3 linked regions of the Homo sapiens genome follow. The protein of the gene in region 1 purifies or fractionates together with the protein of each later gene. This does not show direct contact. Each region holds a gene or a part of one and is shown on either strand. Other genes may lie near its edges.

Region 1 (7,022 bases):
TCAGGGGAAGGCCATGAGCAAGAGGCTGCTCCTCTCCCTCCCAGGGCCCCTCCCCAGGTACCTCTGACCCCAGGACCCCCTAGGGAGAAGGGGATGCAGCCAGATGCTGAGGACCTCCCTGGGGAAGGGTCCAGCAGGGCCCAGAGACTGAAGAAGGGACCGTCGGGGCTGGGGTGGCTCCTAGGAGGAGCAGGTCTGCAGCCCTGTGTCCCTTCTGCCTCCCAGGCGGGAGTCCTCCCTCCCAGGCGGGACACGTACCTTCCCGAACCAGCCACGGCCGATTTCCTTCAGGTACAGGAGGCTGTGCCGGCCCACGTCTGTGGACTTGAGGAGCTGCACTGTAACCAAGCAGGGGGTTCAGGGACCCAGTGTGGCCTCCGCACCCCCCAGCTTCCTCACCCGGCCCCTGGAGGGGCTGCCCGCTTGGCCTTTTCTGGGAAACTGTCCTGAGTCCCTAGCACCAGCTGGCAACCTTGGGGCCACCATCAGGAGCCAGGGTCTCTTGAGAGCAGGGGCCGCTGCTTCCCAGAAAAGCCACGGAGCTGCAGGATCCATCCGGGCATCTTTCTGGGTAGGTCTGGAGAAGGTGCCTGAAGCCACTGGGATAGCCCGGCCAGGGACAGCAGGGCCCGGAGCTCGACCCGTCACATGGGCTGCACCAGGCAGGCAGTGTGGCTGAGCAAGAGGCTGGGGCCACGGCACAGAGAGGGCACTGGAGCGGCCCACCCCCACCCTGCCGCAGGCTGGCATCCCACGCCGGGCGCACCAAAGGCTCCTTTGTTGGGGGCTGCTTGGCACGGCCCCGCACGGAGCACACTGGCCCATTCTCCCCGAGGGCCAGGCCGGGTGAGGTCAGCGGGAGGAAGGGTCAGTGAGGCCCGGGACGAAGGGGCCAGCGCTGGCAGAGCCCACTCATGCCTGCCCACGCCCCGAGGGATTCCCCGAATTCTGCTCCCACGTCAACTGCCCAGAGGGCTGACAGGCCTGGGTCTGAGCCTGGCTGCCAGGAGAGCCCAGGGGGAGGGGGCTCCTTCCAGGGCCTGGAGACCCAGAGAATGTAGAGGCGGGGCAGGGCAGAATTGAGCGTGTGGGCCCACCGGGTGCTGTGTCCTGAGCCCAGCCTGTCTGGGCGGCCCTCTCTCACCCTGGGGCGCCCAGGCCCACACTGTCCCTGAGCAAGTGTGGGGGTCCTGACCATGGGTGCTGAGACAGTTCAGAGGCCCTGGGCACTGCCGGAGGCAGCAGGCAGCCGTCCTTCTCTGCGGTCCCCAGCGGGTGGGGCCATTGCCCAGGTTTCTCCCCGCTGACCTCTGGGGCTACTTTTCTGACCTCACCCCAATCTCTCTCCTCCCTAGAAGCACATTCCTCCCCCAGAAAACTGAAACCAGAGCTGCAAAAGTAGAGAGACAGGTAACCAGTGCCTTCTTTCGGGCTCCTGTTCGCCAACCCCAGTCCCCACAGCAATCCTCCAGAGGTGGCTCTGAGAATCTTCGGGGGCCAGGCACACACCTGCCCCTGGACCCAAGGGCAGTACCCCCTCGGATGGTCCCTGGCAGCTCCCAGCAGGGTCAGCACAGGGCTCAGGGACCCCCACAGCCATCCGGGAAGGTCCGAGGGCCTCACGCTCTGAGTGGGTGGCTGCAGTCCTCCGCGCCCGCCCACAGATGTACTCGAGCTCAAGTGCCAGCCCTGATTCCTGCCGAACTGGGAACCTGTCCTCCAGGAGATGGGGCAGAGTAGGACAGGCGTTGAGGCCTTGGCTCCAAAGCTGGGGGCTGGGGGCCCTCTCTAGGTCCCAGACCAGTGCCTTGGGCCTCTCAGCCCACGATGAAGGCTAGGCTCTCAGGGCCCAGCCAGGCACAGTTCATAGCCAGCTCTCAGGGTCCAGCCAGGCACGGCTCAGAGCAGGTGAGGTGGCCTGCATGGCACCGCAGTAACAGGCCCTGGTGCCAACAGAGCCCCAACAGGGCTGGCAGGGGCCCCTCCCACTGGCCTGATACCCCTCCTGCCTCTGTGTTCCCAGAGGAGCTGGGGGTGGGCAGTGATGGGGGAAGCCTCAGGCTGGAAGCTTCCTGGGAGGGGGCTTGAGATCTGATAGCTCTGGAGGGACCCGCACCCACCACCTAGGCTCCAAGACAGAACTGGGAGGTCCTGAAGCCTGGCCATTCACCCCCAAACTCCCCAGCACGTCCGCCCCATGTGAGTGGTCGGCCTAGGACCCTAGGATGGGGGCAGATGAGGCTGTGGCTGAGGCCCTGCCTGCACCTGCACTCCTGGGTCAGCCCCACCCCTCGGCCCCTCCTCGCAGCCTGAGTGAAAGGCTAATTCACCACCCGCCCACACGGGCCCCACCAGCGCCCCTCCTCCTGCCATGCACAATGGAACCCGTGTCCCTGAAGGGCTGGCGCTCAAGGGGGCAGGAATCTGGGGTCAAGCATCCCTGGACTGCAGAAGAGCCCCTGCCCCCAGCACATGGCCATGTCCAGGACCAGAGAGCCCGCACCCCTGCCCCAGTGCCCACCCCTGCCCCGTGCCCACCCCTGTCCCTGTGCATAGCAGCCCCTTGGGCAGGGGAGGCTGGAGGCCGAGGGCTGTCCTGGACCCTGCCAACCCCTGGCCGGCCCCCAGGCCCAGGAGAAAGAGGTACATGCACCTTTGGCCCCACAGTGCGGCCTGTGACGCAGCCACAGGGAGTCCAGGGCTGCACACTGCGTCTACCCCACAGGCCACTCCCAGCCCTGTGCTGCCCCCACTCCAGAGCTGAGTCTTCCGGTCTCCCCAGATCACACCCAACGCCCAGCACCTGGGCCCCGGAGGGAGGCCACCCCATCTCCCCACCCAGCCCTCACCTGAGCGCCCAGGCTGCTTGGCCATGGGCAAGGAGACCTCCGTGAGTGGCAGGACGTACACGTCGGGCCCGTTCTGTGCTGCCGTGGCCGGGGAGCCCTGCGCCAGGTCGGCTGCGTACTCGTCCCCCTCCGCATTCTCAAACTCCTGCGGGCCGGGCCGGGCATGAGCGGGGCTTCTCGCAGGTCAAGGAAGGGTGTGGCTGGGCCTGGAAAGGCCCCTTTCTTCCAGGGCCGAGCTCCCAGGGCAGGGCAGGAGGGGGTGCTCGGCCCAGAGTTGGAGCCACCGCCCCTGCAGGCCAATGGCCCAGCACCCCTGCTAACTGCCCTTCCATCTGTCTCCTCTTGCTGACCCCCACGCCCCCGACCAGAGGCTCAGTTGTTCCATGAGGGGCCAGAGGCAGATCCCAGAGCCAAGAGGACCCATCTCAGACTCCAGAAAGGGCGCGATGAGCTGTAGGCACCAGCGCCTCAGCCTGGCCTCAGTTCCCCCATCCCTCCCTGGCGGGCAGCCCAGGCTGAGCCCCACCTTGGGGCCTGAGGGTCTAGAGGCAGGGAACCAAGGGACAGAGGTGAGGGCACTCAGGCCAGCTGGCCCTGCCCATCCAGAATCAGCCCCCAGCACCTCTCAGCCACCCACATCCCGAGCAGCCCCTCACCCCGGGCTGTGCCTGGGGTCCCACCCTCCCATGGCGCAGCTTCGGGGACAGGAATTCCATCACCCCCTGCCCCACAGTCCTGTGGGAGAAGCAATTAAGTGCCCCCACCCCTGCCGGGACAAGGAGCATTCCTGGATGTCTGGGAGCCCAGAGCCAACCGGCCACCTTTACCCTGGGCAGCCCACCTGCCACCGCCATCTGCCCCAGCAGCCTTGGACCTTCACCTGGTGGCCACACCACCTCCGGAGCTCCCAGAACTCCTTAAGAGCCTGGCCCCGTGCAGCCTAGGGCTGGGCCACTCCCTGCCAGGCTGCTATTTTGAAATGTAGAGGCTGCACCTGTATAGGGGATACCCCACCCCCAAGTCCAGGGCACATTCCTGCGCTGAGAGCCAAAGTCTCCAAAGTCCTGGGCCCAGCTGAAAGCAATTGCTCCAGGCACACAATGACAGCCCCAATCCCTGAGCACTTGGTACAGCCTTTCTGTCCTTCCTCACAACCCCCAGTGCCCTGGTGGGGAAGCTGAGGCTCAGAGGAGTCAAGGGACTTCCAGCTGGATGCTGGCCAGCACCCGGGCTGGTGAGTCCGAGGACAGGCAGGTGCAGTGGGAGGGGAGGCCTGGGCTCCTCAAGTACGACGTGTGACCCTGGGGACGCCTCCCTTCCCTGGGCTGCAAAGAGAGGGGCAGGTGGCTCTGTCGGTATTCCCGCAGGCCAGGCCCAGCCTGCCCTTTCGGAGCACACAGCCACTCAGGGATGGGGGACGCAGGTGCTGCGTGGGCAACTTCCCCTCCCCGGGACCCAGAAGACCACCCCAGAAGCCCCCTCTTGGGCCCTCCAATCCCAGCCCCGGCCTGGCCCCACCCATCTGGGCTTTGTAGAGGGGCCCAGGACACAGATGCTGTCTCTCCCTGGGGTCGGGCCCGGGCTCCAGGCATTACCTGCTGCCCGGGGGCCAGCCGGGTCCTGCCGATACAGCGTGCAATCAGGTAGCACAGGGTCAGCATTGGGGGCCTGCCCAGCCCCTTCCCTCAGCACAGCTCCCCACCAGGGAGCCCAGCGCAGGTCCCCAAATCCCAGGAGGGAGCCCAGTGTGGAGGCAGGACTTCCCAGGGGCACACTGGTGCTGGAATGTTCCGGGCACCATGTTCCCAAGGAGGTGAGGAGGGCGCAGGAGGAGGAGCTATGGCCAGCCCTTGTTTGGGGCCTTGTTCTTACAGTGCCCCAAGGAGGGGCCACTTATACAATAGCCCCACTCGTCCCACCCAGGCCCCACCTCCACTCCTGCTCCCGCCAAGACCTTGAGGCTCTGGCCTCGGGATCCCCAGGAAGGCGCCTGCGCGGCCTGGCCTGGCCCCTGGTGCCAGCGGGTCAGGGGTACATCCCAGAGCAGGGTGGGGGCTCTGGGCAGGAGTGCAGACCCCACAGCCTGGGGCCACAGCTTTGCCCCCCAGGCACGCAGCTCCTCACTGGTTGATGGGGCCTGTGGCCACTTCAGAGGGCTCTGGAAGGTTGAATGGGCTGGAAAATGTGGCCTTTAGAAAAGGCAAAAAGGCCACATCCAGCACCGTCACCTGCCAGGCCAGCGGGACAGGTGGGCAGAGCCAGCTCCTTGGCCCATTCTGCGTCATGACATACCAGGGGCAGGGAGGACTCTGGGACTGTCTCCCAAATGGGGGTGGCGCCAGCTGAGTCATGGGTCACTTAGTAGGAAGGCACCCTGAGATACAGACAGGGTGCTGTGCGCGCTGCAGAATGCCTCCTCCCACCCTCCTCCCTCCCTGACTTCTCCTGGCGTAGGAATCTGACCTCTGGCCCAGGGGTGGGGCTGACCCCCGTGGGCGTGTGAACCACCAGAGGTCCAGGCCAGGGTGTCATTTGCTCATCAGCAGGAATGGGACCCATGGAGACTCTGGGAGGGGGAGGCGATGCTGGCCGGGGTTCCTTCTGCCTGGCCCTCCCTGCTGCTCAGAGTTACAGCTGGAGGTGGGCTGGGGGTTTGCAGGGGGAGGAGCAGTGCTTGGCACCTGTCCTTGGCCAGGGGCCTTGGCCTCCAGAGGGGCAGCCTAGTGAGGCCAGGCCTCACCCTTGGCGGGGCTCCCTAACCAGCAGGCTGGGCTCTAGCATCACACATCGTCCCCTCCAGAAGGCAGAAGATACCCCGCGCAAGGTGACTCCAACTGGCAAGAAGGTCCCTGTGCCGGGAAGCTTGTCTGGGCAGCCCGGACTCCCCTTTGCAGATTGAATTCGGAGGGACGTGAGAGCCCCTTGCAGAGGCAGCTCCTCCACCAGGAGTCGGGCCTCTAGGGAGGCAAGCCCCCTCCCACACCAGCTCCAGAGCCCCCGACGCCCCCTGCAAGGCTGTCCTCAGCCTCCGTGAGTGCTCGGGCCCAACCCCAGGCTGGAGTGGGAGCGTCAGACCACGCCCCCCACAGAGGGCCTCAAAGTCGAGGAAGCTGGGGCAGGTCCCTGAGGAGGAGCTATGGAGTCCCTGGGCCAGGGTCCACGTGGTCCCCAGGTGGCCCCACAGCAACTACGGCCACCCAGCAGCCACCTTGATGGCCCCAGGAAGGAGGGAAGCTCAGGGTCAAGTGGACGCTACAGGCCTTGCCTGCGGGATCCCACGACAGCTCCCGCGGCCCCCAGGCCTCACCTTGAACCCGATACCGCCCTTCTTACAGCACAGGCAGGCCAGCATGAGGACGATGACGGCGAAGAGCCCGGAGAAAGACACAGCCACCACGGCGAGGGAGGATGGCCAGGACAGCTCGCTGAGCGGGGCGCCGTCTGCGGGAGAGCAGTGTGGTGAGAGTGGCCATGGCTGAGGGCCGGCCAGGCCCCTGCCCCTGCTCTGGGCTCCACAGCCCCACCTGGACTTGCTGCATTCCAGGCTGGGCCTCAGCACCCTGACCTCTCACCCCAGACCCCACACCTCACAGTGTGGCGAGGAGGTGGCCAGAGCCTGCAGTCCTGCAGCCAGCCACTGGACACCACCCTGGCTTCGCCAGGGGGACATAGGGTTGGCAGAGTGACCAGAGCCTGCCCAGTTCCCAATTCTGGGGTTCAGATACCCCTGAGAGGTCAGGGTCTCAGGGGCTACAGGGGGACCCCCATCTCCCTCCCAGATCCCAGTCACCCCACCTTGCCCCTCTGGGGCTGGGAAGGGAACATGGACTCTGTCAAACACGGGAGACCATGTTGCTGGCTGCTATCTGCTGGCCACACACCAGGCTCTGGACAGCGGGGGCTCAAGGCCCTTCCAGCCTCTGAGGTGCGGGGACCTCACTGTCCCTGAGAAGGTGGTGCTGCCTCTGCCAGGCAGCAGGGCTCCCGTGTGCCACCTGCTGCCTCGAATCCGTCCCCTTGCCAAACCCACTGCCAGGCCCCTCTGGTGCTGCTTCTGTCCTGGGAACCATGGGGAAACCCCGTTCTGCAGCTGCTGGTCCATGGAGCCCCTCATCCCAGAGGGGAACTGACAGTACAGCATCCCTCCCAACTTCGGAGTATTGAGCTGAGCCC
Region 2 (7,022 bases), on another chromosome or scaffold:
ATTGCTAATATCTTCTATCCTCTTCTAACCTCTTAGTCAAGCCACCTGCTGCAGCAATTTTCCAATTCTACTTATCCTTTACTCCCATGGTTCCATTGTAGAGATTATAGTGATGGTAGCGTTAGTGTTATTTAATTGATACAGTTTTTCTCAAATATGAATTTATTTTTAATTGACTCATGTTCATAGTTAATCCTGACCTGAGAATTCCTGTCTTTTATTTAATGAGTAGCTAAGTGTTCAGTTTTTCATTTTAAGATACAGTTTCTAGAAACTGGATGTAAAAATTTAGTATAAGTTGATTTAAATGAACATGTAATTGAATTTGGGTTGGGCTAATTTGTAGTTTGTAATAATCAGTTATTTGGCCCTGGGACCTAAGTCTAAAATTTTTAGACTTTTACTGGAGGGATTCATTCACAACTTTTACTAAGACAGGGAGGTTCCATTTACTGTAACCATTTGGGAGAAACAAAATTAAAACAAAAAGTCCTATAGTTGTATTGATTCTGCCAAGAGGATGTCGCTTTTTAAAGAGACCGAGACCGTATACTTTTACTTTAAAAAGAAACTACAGATATAGTTGAACTCAAAAACTTCTAGTCATTTTTTTTCTGAGCGTTTCATTAAATTGTGTTTTTCCCTATGAAATATAAATATTCAGTTTTTATGTTTTACATCTGTAGATGGGCAGAGAAGTTAGATCGGCTAACTAGTACAGCGACAAAAGATCCAGAAGGATTTGTTGGGCATCCAGTAAATGCATTCAAATTAATGAAACGTCTGAATACTGAGTGGAGTGAGTTGGAGAATCTGGTCCTTAAGGATATGTCAGATGGTAAGTCTGAAGAGATTCCTGAGTAAGGTAATATTGCCACCATATGTAGAAATAATAAAATTAATGATAAATTCAGTTCCCAGGAAACCAGTTCAGTTCAGTGTTGTAACTGGATTATGCCTGGGTGCATTTGGTTTGAATAGAGTTAATTTAGTCAAAATCCTGAATTCTTTGATTAAAAAAGAAGTAATTTCTTTTTTTGTTGACTTGTTTTGAAATCTGCAAAAGTGAATAGATTATTTGGCATATAGCTTCATTTCTGAGGGTAATCATTTTTATTTTAGGATTACCTTCAAACTTTAAAAATTTATGTCTTTATCTGCAATCAATTTAAAAAAATGTTGGGAGTGTTACTATAAAGAGAAGTATTAGCTGTGTTCTATCTAGTATTTTGAAGTTTAGAATTAGTTTGCTCAATGTGGACAATCAAACTGAGGCTGCAAACAGTAAAAATGAGTAAGTGATACAATACAATTTGTAGTTGGAGCATTGAAATGTTTTAGATACTTTAATAACAGATGTAGAAGACTAAATCTGGACTTTATTAAGGAGGTAAAGGGATTATGCCTCGCCCCCCGCCGCCCCTGCCCTGCCCCGCCAAGAAAAGAAGAAGAGAGAGACGGAAAAGAGCTGAGCTAGTTGTGTAGATAAAATACTCCAAGGGTACTTACCAGTGTTTGTAAGCAGTGAAGTAAACTTATTATGCACAGGGATCAGGAAGCCTTGAAAAGAAAAATATGGCAAGTACTTGTGAATACTTCTTTACTGTGAGAGGGAAATGCCTGTGATTATTTTCTGTACTGTATAACACCTTGGGAACTTTTTTTTTTTTTTTTGGAGACAGGGTCTCACTGTCTAACTGTTGCCCAGGCTGGAGTACAGTGGCACAATGGTGGCTCACTGCAGCTTTGAACTCCTGGGCTCAAGCAATCCTCCCACCTCAGCCTCCTCAGTAGCTAGCACTACAAGCATAGACCACCACGCCAGGCCAATTTAAAAATTTTTCTTTCTTAGAAACAAGGTCTTGCTATGTTGCCCAGGCTGATCTCAAATTCTTGGCCTCATGTGATCCTTCCACCTCAGCCTCCCACAGCGCTAGGGATTACACGCGTGAGCCATGGTTCCTGGCCCCTGAACCATTTTTTAAAGGAAATCGATATATTTATTCTCAAGTAATGAACTAAGTTGTTTTATAATGTGAACCTTGGCACTTTGTTGTTTTAATCTGTAGTAGTCATTCTATAATGCTATGAGAGAGTATATATATTTTAATTTTTCTTAGAATTTTGTTTGTAGCATAAGAGATATTATAGCCTTCTATAAAACTTATAAAACTTGCTTGTAAAATTCCATATAGAGATTGCAACTGAGAGTTGGTCGTAAAACTAAAAATATTGTTGGGAACAGAGCAGGTCAAAACTCCCATGATTGATCTAATAATGGAATTATACTGGTAAAAAGCCACTGCACTTCAGCCTGGGCAACATGGCAAGACTCTGTCTCTAAAAAGAGACAAAACAGCATAAAAATATGCTTGATATAAACTCTAGCCCTCTTCTAGTTATTTGTTCATTTGTACATTTTCATTTCACGCCTGTAATCCTAGTAGTTTGGGAGGCTGAGGCTGGCAGATCACTTGAGGTCAGGAGTTCGAGAGGAGCTTAGTCAACATGGTGAAAACCCGTCTCTACTAAAAATATAAAAGTTAGCCGGGCCTGGTGGTGGGCACCTTTAATCCCAGCTAGTCGGGAGGCTGAGGCAGGAGAATTGCTTGAACCGGGAGTTGGAGGTTGCCATGAGCCAAGATTGCACTGCTGCATTCCAGCCTGGGTGACAGAGCGAGACTCCATCTCAAAAAAAAAAAAAAAAAAAAAAAAAAAAAAAAAGGCCTGGTCTCTTGCTGTTCAAAATACGTAGCTGGCTGGACACAGTTGCTCATGCCTGTAATCCCAGCACTTTGGGAGACCAAGGCAGGTGGATCGTTTGAGACCAGGAGTTGGAGACCAGCCTGGGCAACACGGTGAAACCCCGTCTCTACTAGAAATACAAAAATTAGCCAGGTGTGGTGGCACATGCCTGTAATCCCAGCTACTGGGAGGCTGAGGCAAGATAATTGCTTGAACCTGGGAGGTGGAGGTTGCAGTAAGCTGAGATCATGCCACTGCCACTGCTCTCCAGCCTGGATGACAGAGTGAGACTGTCTCAAAAAAAAAAAAACAAAACAGTTGATTATAAGTTAATGAGAAGAGAGGGAAGTCTCATACCTAACTTTTATTCACAAGTAATGATACTGATATTAAAATTTTAAACCAATTTTTTATTTCTTAAGGAGTGTTTAGCATTCATTCTTCTTGGGGTTATATAGTTATCAGTAATTGGTTTGTTTGATTTTTGCATACTTTATATAAATCCTCTAAGATTAGGTTTATATATTGTAAATTTTGGTTGATCAACGTCATGTTTGATAATTAAACTGATTTAAATATATTTTAGTAAACTAGCTTTGCTGTTGATCTTAAATATATAGTTAATATCTCTTCCTTCTCCTTGAAGAATTCCACCAAACTTTATATATTTACATATTTATATAATGTGTAATACATGGAAGAAAAAAACAACTTTAAGAGCACATATTTTACTTACCATCTGTTATCTGGAAGTATAATTGATTGTCAATGAATGTCATTTCAGACCCATAAATGTGTTCATTTCTCAAACTTAGTGGATGCACTTTGTTTTCTTGCTGTGTTATATAACTAAAAACTCATAACTATTATGTTAGGTGATCTTTACCTGCTAATACAGATACAATTTATATAACAGCGTCACAGTCCTTAAGCAACACTAGGCTTTTGGAAGATTGAACAAGTTAGAAGTATGCCAAGTCTTATTCAGTGTATTTAATTTTTTCTTGTTGAGTATGTAGAACTTTTCATGGTGTGGTAGAAAATAATAAAATAGATTTTGAACAATCCTTATTAAGTCTCTTTATGGGAAGTTTATGAGGTTCTACAGTTTTTTTTTCTTTGATTTATCTATTTCAAGGCTTTATCTCTAACCTAACCATTCAGAGACAGTACTTTCCTAATGATGAAGATCAGGTTGGGGCAGCCAAAGCTCTGTTACGTCTCCAGGATACCTACAATTTGGATACAGATACCATCTCAAAGGGTAATCTTCCAGGTAAGATCATTCTTCCATTCTATAAAATACCTATCACCTAGCTTCTCTGTTGAGTCCATTAACACAATGTTAGTATAAAAAAGACTTGCATTTTAAGATTTTAAATTGTAGTTTGTTTCATAGCCTTCGAAGACTAAAGAATCACCTTCCCTTTCTCTTAGGGCTTAATAGTTACGGGTATGCTTCTAGCTTCTAGCTTGTTACTCTGAAAGCTTGTATTGATAGAGACTAACTTAAGTAGGGAATTTTAGTGTGTAAGGAAAAGAAACTATCATTTCACCAAATGTTTTTATTCAGAACACCTAATACTATTTGAAAGCTTTGTATGTAAAGCTATAAGGGATTGATAGTCAAAGTTTATATGTTAAATAATTAAAAGCCAAGATGTTTTGGGTATCCACATATGTTTAAAGTGTTCCATAGTATGGAACATCCTACTTTCTGACCTATTTTTGGCAAAGTCCTCTTTTTAAGTTACAGTTGCTTTCATGATAATTTACTTTTGCCGTCCCTCACTTTTTCAAAGTTTGTGACTCATTACCACTACTATCTCCTGTTATTGTCAGCTGCAGAAATAAAATATGTTGTCTGTGTCTTCACATTGAAATTGATTTTCTCCGTAAGAAAAAATCACTGGGATGAGTTGTTAATCAAAATGTTTTCTTGCTCATCTCCCTTTATTTGAGGTGAAGGTATCCGTTGGTAAAAACTAAACATGGTATAATAGTAAATAAAATTTCTGTTAAGCTGGAATATAATTCCATTAATTTGAACTTCCAAAAATGTACAAATTTGCAAATTTTCAGTTTCTACTAATATTATACATTATAACGCTTTTGATAAGATTATAACCTTATTTTTAAAATTGGTTTCAGGTTTTCATAGATATTAAATACTTAATATGTGCCAGCTATTATGTTAGGTACTGGGGACACATAATGAACAAGACATACACTACCCTCGCCATTAGGGTATTTAACATTCTTACAGTATAGTAAGATGAGTGCTTGGATGGGAGAAATTCAGGATACCATATGAGCACATCAAAAGAAACCTATTGCTGGACCTCATAAGGGATGTAAAGGAAGAATTCCTGGAAGATACACATTAAAAAAATTGAGATCTAATGGACCAGGAATTAGCCAGAAAAATGGGGGAGAGGGAGACAGGAGTGGGTGTGGGAAAAGTGTTTCAGACAGAGGGAACATGTAGAAAGGTCAAAAGGAGAGAGCATATCATATTCAGATAACTAACATGTAGTTTGTATGGCTTAATGTAGAGTTCAAGAGGTGAACGCACCAGGTGGATATGGGGGTTTGGCTTTGTGAGAGTAGTGAGAGCTGAGACTAGAGAGGTAAGCAGAAGCCATCTCTTGGAGAGCTTTGTAAGCCATGTGGAAGAGATTGAACTGTCCTGAGTGCAGTGCGGAGCTATTAAAAAGTTTGTAAGGGAAATTTATGATTTTTCCTTTTAGAAAACCATTCTGGCTGCCGAATGGAGATTGGGTTGGGGCCAAGGGACGAAGAACCAGGGAGGAGGCTGTTGCAAATATTTAAGTAAGAGGTGGTAGTGGATAGATTATCAAGCTACTTATTAGAGTAGAATAGTAGAATTTGATGATGTACTTGATAGGAATTTCTGGCTTCATCAACTGGATAGATTCCATTTAACAAAATAGGGCTGGCATGGTGGCTCATGCCTGTAATCCCAGCACTTTGGGAGGCTAAGGTGGAAAGGATCCCTTGAGGGTAGGAGTTCAAGACCAGCCTGGGCAGCATAGCAATTCCCTGACTCTACAAAAAAATGAAAACTTAGCTGGGTGTTGTGGTGCTTGCTTGTAGTCCTAGCTATTTGGGAGGCTGAGGTGGGATGTATTCACACTGCTATGAAGAAATACCCAAGACTGGGTAAGTTATTTTAAAAAAGAGGTTTAATTGACTCACAGTTCCGCATGGCTACGGATGTCTTAGGAAACTCACAATCATGGCAGAAGGCACTTCTTCACAGGGTGGCAGGAAAGAGAATGAGGGCCAGCAGGGGAAATGCCAGGTGCTTATAAAACCATCCTATCTCATGAGAACTCACTGTCACAAGAACAGCATGGGGGAACTGCCCCCATGATGCAGTTATCTCCACCTTGTCCCGCCCTTGATAGGTGGGGATTATTAAAATTCAAGGTGATATTTGGGTGTGAACACAGAGCCAAACCATATCACGGGAGGATCACTTGAGCCCAGGAGTTCAAGGCTGCAGTGAGCTGTGATCACGCCACTACACTCCAACCTGGGCAACAGAGTGAGACCCCTATCTCAAAAAACAAAAAGCAAAAAAGAAAACATCCCACCTCAGCCTCCCAAATGTGTGGTGGTGGGTAATAAATGTTATTTAGATTACTATATGTGTTTTGTTTAAAAAATGATTATATTCCCATCAAAATGGTCCTGAATATTATTTAACCCTGATTTCACTGTGTTTAGTCTTAGGGGCAATATTCATTCTTTCTCAGGTGCTTTTTATCTCCTTGTTGACTTTTTTCCTCTTTTATCACAGTTTTGGGCTAGTTCTTATTGACTTTTCTTTCAGGCAAATTCCTTATAAGTAGAATAACTGAAATTTCCTAATCACATTATACCCTATAAGTGGTAAAAATAATAGCATGAATACTAGCATAAGAGTTTTTAGGCTCCCCCAACCCAGATTATTTTCTGTTGTTAATAGTCAAATATCACAAATGTGTTCGAAGGCTTCTTGTGCACCTTCCCTTGTTTAGAGGTAATGACTATTCTGAACTTGGTGCGTATCCTGTCATCTTTTTATACTTTATCATATATATTTTCCATTGTATTGTGTTTTTAAATTTTATGTCAATAGTACATCATACTCTATGTATCTTTCTACAACCTTTTTTTAACCTAATATTTTCAGTAAATTTATCTGTGTTGATCAGATTCATCTAACTGCTAATGTGGTATTGTATAACATTATTTATTCATTCTTCTGT
Region 3 (7,022 bases), on another chromosome or scaffold:
GCTCCCACAACACGAGGTGGAGGCCGGAAGACAGGCAGCGAGGCCGACACCCACGCCAAACATCCTCTTTGGAGGGGCTCTCTACTTCTGACAGCCCAGCTCCACATCCTCCCTGCTGCAGGCCAGGCCCGGACTGAGCAGGGAGTGGCTGCAGGGCCTGGAGATGGCCCCAACCACTCCTCACACCAGCCCTGCCCACAGCTGCTCACTCAGCACCCGCAGGGCAGGTGGCCTTTATGCTGGCAGTGGCGGAGCCCCGACTTCTAGCAAAAGCGTCTGCCTGGAGGCCACAGAAGCCAAGTCATGGTGCCAGGGCTACGAGCAGCCATGGGGGTGGGGGAGCCCAGGGAAGGGGAGGGCATAGGGAAACTGAGGCCCGGAAAGCTGGGCTGGCATGGAGCAGGCGGCAGCGGCAACCAGGCTCTCTTTTGTCATCACTGGCGACAGCAGGGATTTGGGTCAGGTGCACAGAAGGACTCAGAAACCGGGGCCCGGGGGACGCCAAGAAGTGGAGCAGCCTCTGCTCATCTGGAGTGTTCCCGAGGCAGCCGGTGTGTGGTGCCAGGGCCCCTCATCACCTGGAGGGCTCTGCCCACCGTGCCTGCTGCACCCACCGCCAGCAACAGGGAGCCTGACAGCCTCAAGGCACGTGAGCAGCAAGAGCCGTGCCCCACACCACGAGGCTCCAGGGCCGGGTGTGGCAGCTGGAGGGAGGCCAGGCCAGAAGCCAGCAGTGGACCATGAGGAGCCTCTCCCTCCAGTCCCGACACGGGGGTCTCATGAGGAGAGACTCCTTCGAATCCCGACACGGGGGTCTCAGAGCAACACTCCGTATCACCTCCCCTCACAGCCAGGGCCTGGGGGTGGCCGAGCACAAGATTTCCTCACAGCCCTCCTCGTAGTGAAGAGGAATGGAAAAGACGCCGGGCGCGGTGGCTCACATCTGTAATCCCTGCACTTTGGGAGGCTGAGGAGAGTGAATCACTTGAGGTCAGGAGTTTGAGACGAACCTGGCCAACATGGTAAAACCCCATTTCTACTAAAAATTAAAAAAAAATTAGCCAGGCATGGTGGTGGGCGCCTGTAATCTCAGCTACTCAGGAGGCTGAGGCAAGAGGATTGTTTGAACCCGGGAGGCAGAGGTTGCAGTCAGCTGAGATCGTGTCACTGCACTCCAGCCTGGGCGACAAGAATGAGACTTTGTCTCAAAAAAAAAAAAAAAAAAGGAATGTTAAAGGTTTGTAAGTGATGGTGGACTGTGGGTCGGGGTGGACCCTGAGCGAGGGCCCCTGGACGGGGGCTGGTGGGGCGGGACACTTACTGCTTTCCTTCTGTGGCCGGCTTAAGAACATACTTGTCAAAATACATTCTCACCAGGCGCTCCCGTTCCTCCTGCCCTGGCAGGTCGAAGTGGACCATCTCATTGATGCGGTCATTGATGGCCCAGTCGAACTGCTCTGGTTGGTTGCTGGCCAGGACCAGCATGAACCTGCGGGGCGGGGATGAGGATGAGGATGCTGGGGCTGCCGGCCGAGCTGCACCAAGGGGAACGGGGCCTCCTCAGCCCCCACAGGGAGAACCTAAAGTGGCGGGAAACACGAGGACACGGGCACAGCCCTGGTCGGCCACCTGCCCCACTGCACCCAGCTGTCCCCCGGCCTGGCTTCCTGGGCCTCTGTTCTCCCTCCATATAGTGCTTTCCCGCTGACCCTCGCCCAGCCTGATAGGCAGTGCCGGGAACACCACTCTCTCCTGCTGCCTGACCCCTGCTGTGCTGGGAGCAGGGATTCGGGACCCGGAGTCCATGTCGAGAAGTCGCCCACACGTGCCAGGAGCAGGACCTCAGGGGCCCGGGTTCACTGGAGGCTCAGCAGGGCCCCAGCCTTGCCTCTCTGGGAAGGACCCGAGTCAGGGCTCCAGGGAGCATCCACCGGCAGCAGCTGACCTGGGAGCCCAACGTGCCTGAGGAGTCAGCCACGGCCGACCAGCAGGACTTGATCCTCCGTGTGACACGTGACTGGGGCTGGAGGGGCCCAGGAGACCAAGAAAACTCAAAATTAGGGGACTTGGGAGGGACTAGGGAGCCTGGCCATGGGGCGGTCACCCTATGGGGGACCTCTGGGCGGCAGCCCACAGAGGCCACACAAAGTCGGGTGGGCCCCAAGCCTGGAGGGTGCACCCTTGGCCAGCATCCGGGCGGGGGACCAAGGTCCCAGGTTCCGCCCCGACACACAGGACCTGCTGGTGTCCAACTTCCCGTGGGAGCAAACTTGTCTCCATCTCCCACCCCAGGGCACACACACCCTCCAAGGGAGACCCAGCAGAGCCTCACACGATGAGACCACCTCCCTTGCAGGCACAGGACCGCAGAAACCTAGGGGCAGAGGGACCTGCAAGCTGGGGCGGCGGCGCACAGGGCCGTGAGGACAGGACTGACCCCAGCTCTGCCCGGGAGGCCCCCGCATGTTCCTCAGTGACACCCCGTGCTGTCCCGAGCTGGGCCGTTCCCAGGGGACATCCGAGGTGGGCATGTTGAGGCCACGGCAGCTGCCCAGCACTGTGAGCCAGGGCCCCTCAGGTCCCTCGGTGGGAACCAAGGGCGACGGCTGCACAGCCCTGCCCGGGGGCCCAGGACCCGAGGGGCTCCCTCACTTGTTGCTGTGCTGGCCCGTGCGGTACAGGAAGGCGTTCAGTGTGGCCCTGAGGTCCTCGCTTATCTTCTCCTGCAGAGAGAAGGTTCCAGCCTTAGGCACCAGGAGCAAAGCCTTGTAAACAGCCACAGCAGAAAGTCCCACAGGCCTCCCTCCTGCAGGGAGCAGGGACATGGCGACACTTTCATGGATCTACTCTCAAAAGCCTGACCAGGGCCAGGGGCGGTGGCTCACGAATGTAACCTGGATTTTGGGAGGCTGAGGCGGGCAGATCACACGAGGTAAGGAGTTTGAGACCATCCTGGCCAACATGGTGAGACCCCGTCTCTACTAAAAATACAAAAATTAGCCAGGCGTGGTGGCGCACCTGTAGTCCCAGCTACGTGGGAGGCTGAGGCACGAGAATCACTGAAACCTGGGAGGCAGAGGTTGTAGTGAGCTGAAATTGCACCGCTGCACTCCAGCGTGGGCAACAGAGTAAAATTCTGCCTTAAAAAAAAAAAAAAGAAAAAGAAAAGAAAGCCTGACCGGGCACGGGGGCTCACATCTGTAATCCCAGCACTTCAGAACGTCAAGGGAGGCAAATCTCTTTAGCTCAGAAGTTTGAGCCCAGTCTGGGCAACGTGAGGAAACTCCATCTCTACTAAAATTACAAAAAAATTAGACAGGTATTCCACTGTGCCCCTGCAGTCCCAGCTACTCAGGCGGCTGAGGCAGGAGGATTGCTTGAGCTCCAGAGGTCGAGGCAACAGTGAGCTGTGATCGCCCCTGCACTCCAGCCTGGGCGACAGAGACCCTGTCTTAGAATGATAATTAAAAGGCTGGGCGTGGTGGCTCACGCCTGTAATCCCAGCACTTTGGGAGGCCAAGGCGGGAGGATCACGAGGTCAGGAGATCGAGACCATCCTGGCTAACACGGTGAAACCCCGTCTCTGCTAAAAACACAAAAAATTAGCCAGGTGTGGTGGCGGGAGCCTGTAGTCCCAGCTACTTGGGAGGCTGAGGCGGGAGAATGGCGTGAACCTGGGAGGTGGAGCTTGCAGTGAGCCGAGATGGGGCCATTGCACTCCAGCCTGGGTGATAGAGCGAGATTTCTTCTCAAAAAAAAAAAAAAAAAAAGCTGTTTTTCACACAAAGCTTACAGAGAAAAAGAAACTGAACAGAGGGCTGCAGCCTGGCCCAGGCAGACGGCTGTGCCCACCCCACCACCCCATTGTGGCCAGAGGCTTAGTGACACTCACGGTGGCTCGCTTCCGAAGGAAGGCGTCCGCTTCATCCACAAAGAGCAGGAGGCTGTGAACGAGAGGGAGGCCAAGCAGGGCGAGAGTGACACCAGGAGCAGCCCACAGCAGCGTCCGGCCGCGGCAGGAGCAGGCCAAGCAGGCAGATCCCCACGGGGTCAGGCTCTGCCCCATCAGCAGCCCTAAGTCCTGGACTCGACAGAAGCCGATCAGCCTGGCCTCTGGGCAGCTGACCACGGCCCAGCCTCAGAAGGCCGTGGGAAACCAACCACACACGGGGGCGACGAACTCCGCCCCACAGGCTTCACCCCCACCCGGCCCAGTGCAGCACTGGTGGCCGCTTAGAGTCCACGACAGGGACAGGTCTTCTAAAGTGAAAGGTCAAAGGCCAGAGGGGAGGGTGCCAACCATGAGCATCGTGGTTCCAACGAGGACAGCCGAGGCCACAAGGGTGCCCGGGCTGTGCCCTGCGCGGGGTCACTGTGGGACCTATTGAAGGGAGTGTGCCATGCTGTCTTCAGCTAACTTTCAAATGGTTCTAGAAAAGGCAACCAGTGCCCACGCCCACCTGCAGGCGTGTTGGGGGGAGGGCGGCTGTGGAGGAGCCTCCCCTGCAGCTGTGAAGACTCCTCTCCCCCTGCACCCACCCACCTCCCTTCTGCCCTGAGCCAAGTATCCCACTGGCAGCCTCCACACGCTGGGGGCCTCGTGTCCACCAGGGTCCACACTCAGGGGACTTTCCCTCCGAGGGACCCTCCACTGGGCCTCCTGCGTGGCCACAAGGACAGAGCTGCAGAAAGACAGGGTCCCCAAGAGACACCTGGACCCCCTTCCCAGAAGGCAGCCTGCTGGGCCGCAGCCAAGGGCCTGGTGCATGCTGTGGGGACGTCTCACCCGCGCCGGCTGGTATTGGCCCAGTCAAAGAGCTTGTGCATGGCGGTCACGCCTTCCCGCCCCATGGGGGCCACGTCCCCGCCTGTCATGATGGCGTAGTCCATGCCTGAGTGCAGGGCGAGTTTCTGGACAGGAAGAGTGAGGGGAGACAGAGCAGATGTTCCCTCCGCCTCTGCAAAGCCTGCACACTCCACCCGGAGTGTGGAGGCTCTGCCCAGCGTCCCTGCCTGGAAGCCACAGCCTGCCAGACAGGAGACGTCCCCCGCCTGGAAGATGGGAGGCGCTGCTGCCCACACCAGCACCCTGAGCCTACACGAGGGTGGGCAAAGGCCTAAGGGGGGTCCATTCCCCAGGCAGCTGAGCCCCCCAGACACCTGCAGGCAGGTGAGACCCCAGCGGCCCCTGGCCCACCTGTTCAGCCAGGCGCTCTCACCTTGGCAAACAGCGTCTTCCCGGTGCCTGGTGGCCCGTACATCAGGATGTTCCTGTACAGGCTGCGGTTCTTCTTGGTGTTCCTTGTTGCTATGGCGATGTCGCGCACCCGTGCTTCCAGGCTGGGCTGCCGGGGAAGACGGGGGTTTGGAGGAGACACTGTGCACCCATGGAAGCCTCAGGGGAAGGGGCTGCGGGAATGCCTGGGTGCAGACTCGGCTCCTCGGGAAGCCTCCCACCTCAGGGGCAGCCTATCTATCCCCAGCACGGTCCAAGCAGTCGCATCTCAGGACCCAAAAGCTCCTGGGTGCCACCACGAGCGCCAGCAAGGGCCACAGCCCGGCCCAGCTCCAGGGTCCCCTCCCTGCGCCTCCCCGGTCCCAGGCACACCGACTTACACTGAGCACAACACCCTCCAGCGCGTCCTGGGGTCGACTGAGGAGCCGCCGGCTGACCTGCCGGAGGGGAAGGGGAAGCGCCATCGGGTCACCTGCCACAGCCACGGAACAGCCACCAACGCGCACACACACGCTCGGTAACACGCAGAAACGGAGCTGCCCCAAAGCACAGCCAGGACCGGCCCGGAGCTGGAACCCTGCCCCGCCCGGAGACCAGGCGGCTATTGCTGGGATTAGGGGCATTTTCCGGTTCCTTATTGGCTTTTATTTTCTTAACCACCTACCCAGTGACCTGTGGAGAGCAGGCACCTCGGGGGCGGCGAGCGGCGCGGCTCCCCAGGGAGGCCACCAGACGCCGTGGCCTGTAGCAGCTTCCCTGATAGACGGCCGCACACCCAAGTCCCGGGTCTTGCAAGGACCCCGATGTGCTCCCAGGCCCCATCAAGAGCCCTGAGCAGGGGACACCGAGGCAGACAGGGGAAGGGTCTCACTGATGCAGACCCCTAAGGTACAGCGCCAGACAGGAAAACCCACCCGTGAAGCAGTGTGCGGGTGCCCGTTATCCGGGGAAAGGGAAGGGACGGGAGGGTGTGCGTGGGCTGTGCTCGTGGGGCAGAAGGGACTCAGCCAGGAACTGCACTCAGGGAGGGCCAGGCCTGCGCTGCTACCTGGATGGGGTGCCGCAGCGCCTCAAGCACCGTGATGCGGGACGTCTCCCTCACTAGGGACGGCTTCCCCAGCCGAGCCTCGATGAAGCGGCCGGCGACAAGCGTGGCATTCTTGGCTGAGTAGACCCCAACAGCCAGCAGCGTCAGCCCAGCCACCTGCAGCAGAGACACCGCACTGGCGCACCGGCCCCCACCGTCCCTCCCTCTTAGAGCAGGAGACGCACGGGGCTGCCCCCACCCTCTCTCCGCCCGAGGGAGAAGCACAGGGCCGTGCACTGGCCCCACAGGAACGCGAATTCCCGGCCCCGAATCCCACAGCCACGCGGTTACAGGAGGCAGGTGGGGCAGTCACAGCGCCCTCACTCAGGGCCATTTTCTCTGCAACTGGCAGCATAAATCCTAGAAAGCCTCGGTCGCTGAGCGGGGCCCTGGACAGACCCAGCCGGATGTCACAGGGCCACACCCTCTGGTACATTCTTGGCCACTAAAAATGGTACTTTATTCCTGGAAAACAAGACTAACCCAAAATCTCTAACTCGTTTTAAAAATCAATTAGGCTGGCTGGGCACAGTAGCTCAGGTCTGTAATCCCAGCACTTTGGGAGGCTGAGGCAGGTGGATCACCTGAGGTCAAGAGTTCAAGACCAGCCTAACCCACATGGAGAAACCCCGTCTCTACTAAAAATACAAAAAATTAGCTGGCCATGGTGGCACATGCCTGTAATCCCATCTACTTGGG

The links.
Region 2: the proteins of AATK (region 1) and P4HA1 purify together in Homo sapiens (affinity purification with mass spectrometry; 2 studies listed by BioGRID and IntAct, with this or other methods). This does not show direct contact.
Region 3: the proteins of AATK (region 1) and ATAD3A purify together in Homo sapiens (affinity purification with mass spectrometry; 2 studies listed by BioGRID and IntAct, with this or other methods). This does not show direct contact.

Annotation. Positions count from the first base shown.
Region 1 is NC_000017.11:81,128,212-81,135,233, forward strand, and holds part of AATK (serine/threonine-protein kinase LMTK1), read right to left. Parts: exon of another isoform or gene 6,291-7,022; coding exon 6,157-6,290; intron 5,098-6,156; exon of another isoform or gene 4,985-5,097; intron 4,084-4,984; exon of another isoform or gene 3,834-4,083; intron 3,744-3,833; exon of another isoform or gene 3,691-3,743; intron 2,995-3,690; coding exon 2,850-2,994; intron 1,411-2,849; exon of another isoform or gene 947-1,410; intron 339-946; coding exon 259-338; intron 1-258. UniProt on the Homo sapiens protein: May be involved in neuronal differentiation.
Region 2 is NC_000010.11:73,065,845-73,072,866, reverse strand, and holds part of P4HA1 (prolyl 4-hydroxylase subunit alpha-1 isoform 2 precursor), read left to right. Parts: intron 1-686; coding exon 687-838; intron 839-3,883; coding exon 3,884-4,021; intron 4,022-7,022. UniProt on the Homo sapiens protein: Catalyzes the post-translational formation of 4-hydroxyproline in -Xaa-Pro-Gly- sequences in collagens and other proteins.
Region 3 is NC_000001.11:1,522,162-1,529,183, reverse strand, and holds part of ATAD3A (ATPase family AAA domain-containing protein 3A), read right to left. Parts: intron 6,441-7,022; coding exon 6,285-6,440; intron 5,674-6,284; coding exon 5,617-5,673; intron 5,346-5,616; coding exon 5,220-5,345; intron 4,912-5,219; coding exon 4,787-4,911; intron 3,945-4,786; coding exon 3,893-3,944; intron 2,724-3,892; coding exon 2,653-2,723; intron 2,024-2,652; coding exon of another isoform or gene 1,909-2,023; exon of another isoform or gene 1,502-1,908; intron 1,490-1,501; coding exon 1,322-1,489; intron 1-1,321. UniProt on the Homo sapiens protein: Essential for mitochondrial network organization, mitochondrial metabolism and cell growth at organism and cellular level. May play an important role in mitochondrial protein synthesis. May also participate in mitochondrial DNA replication.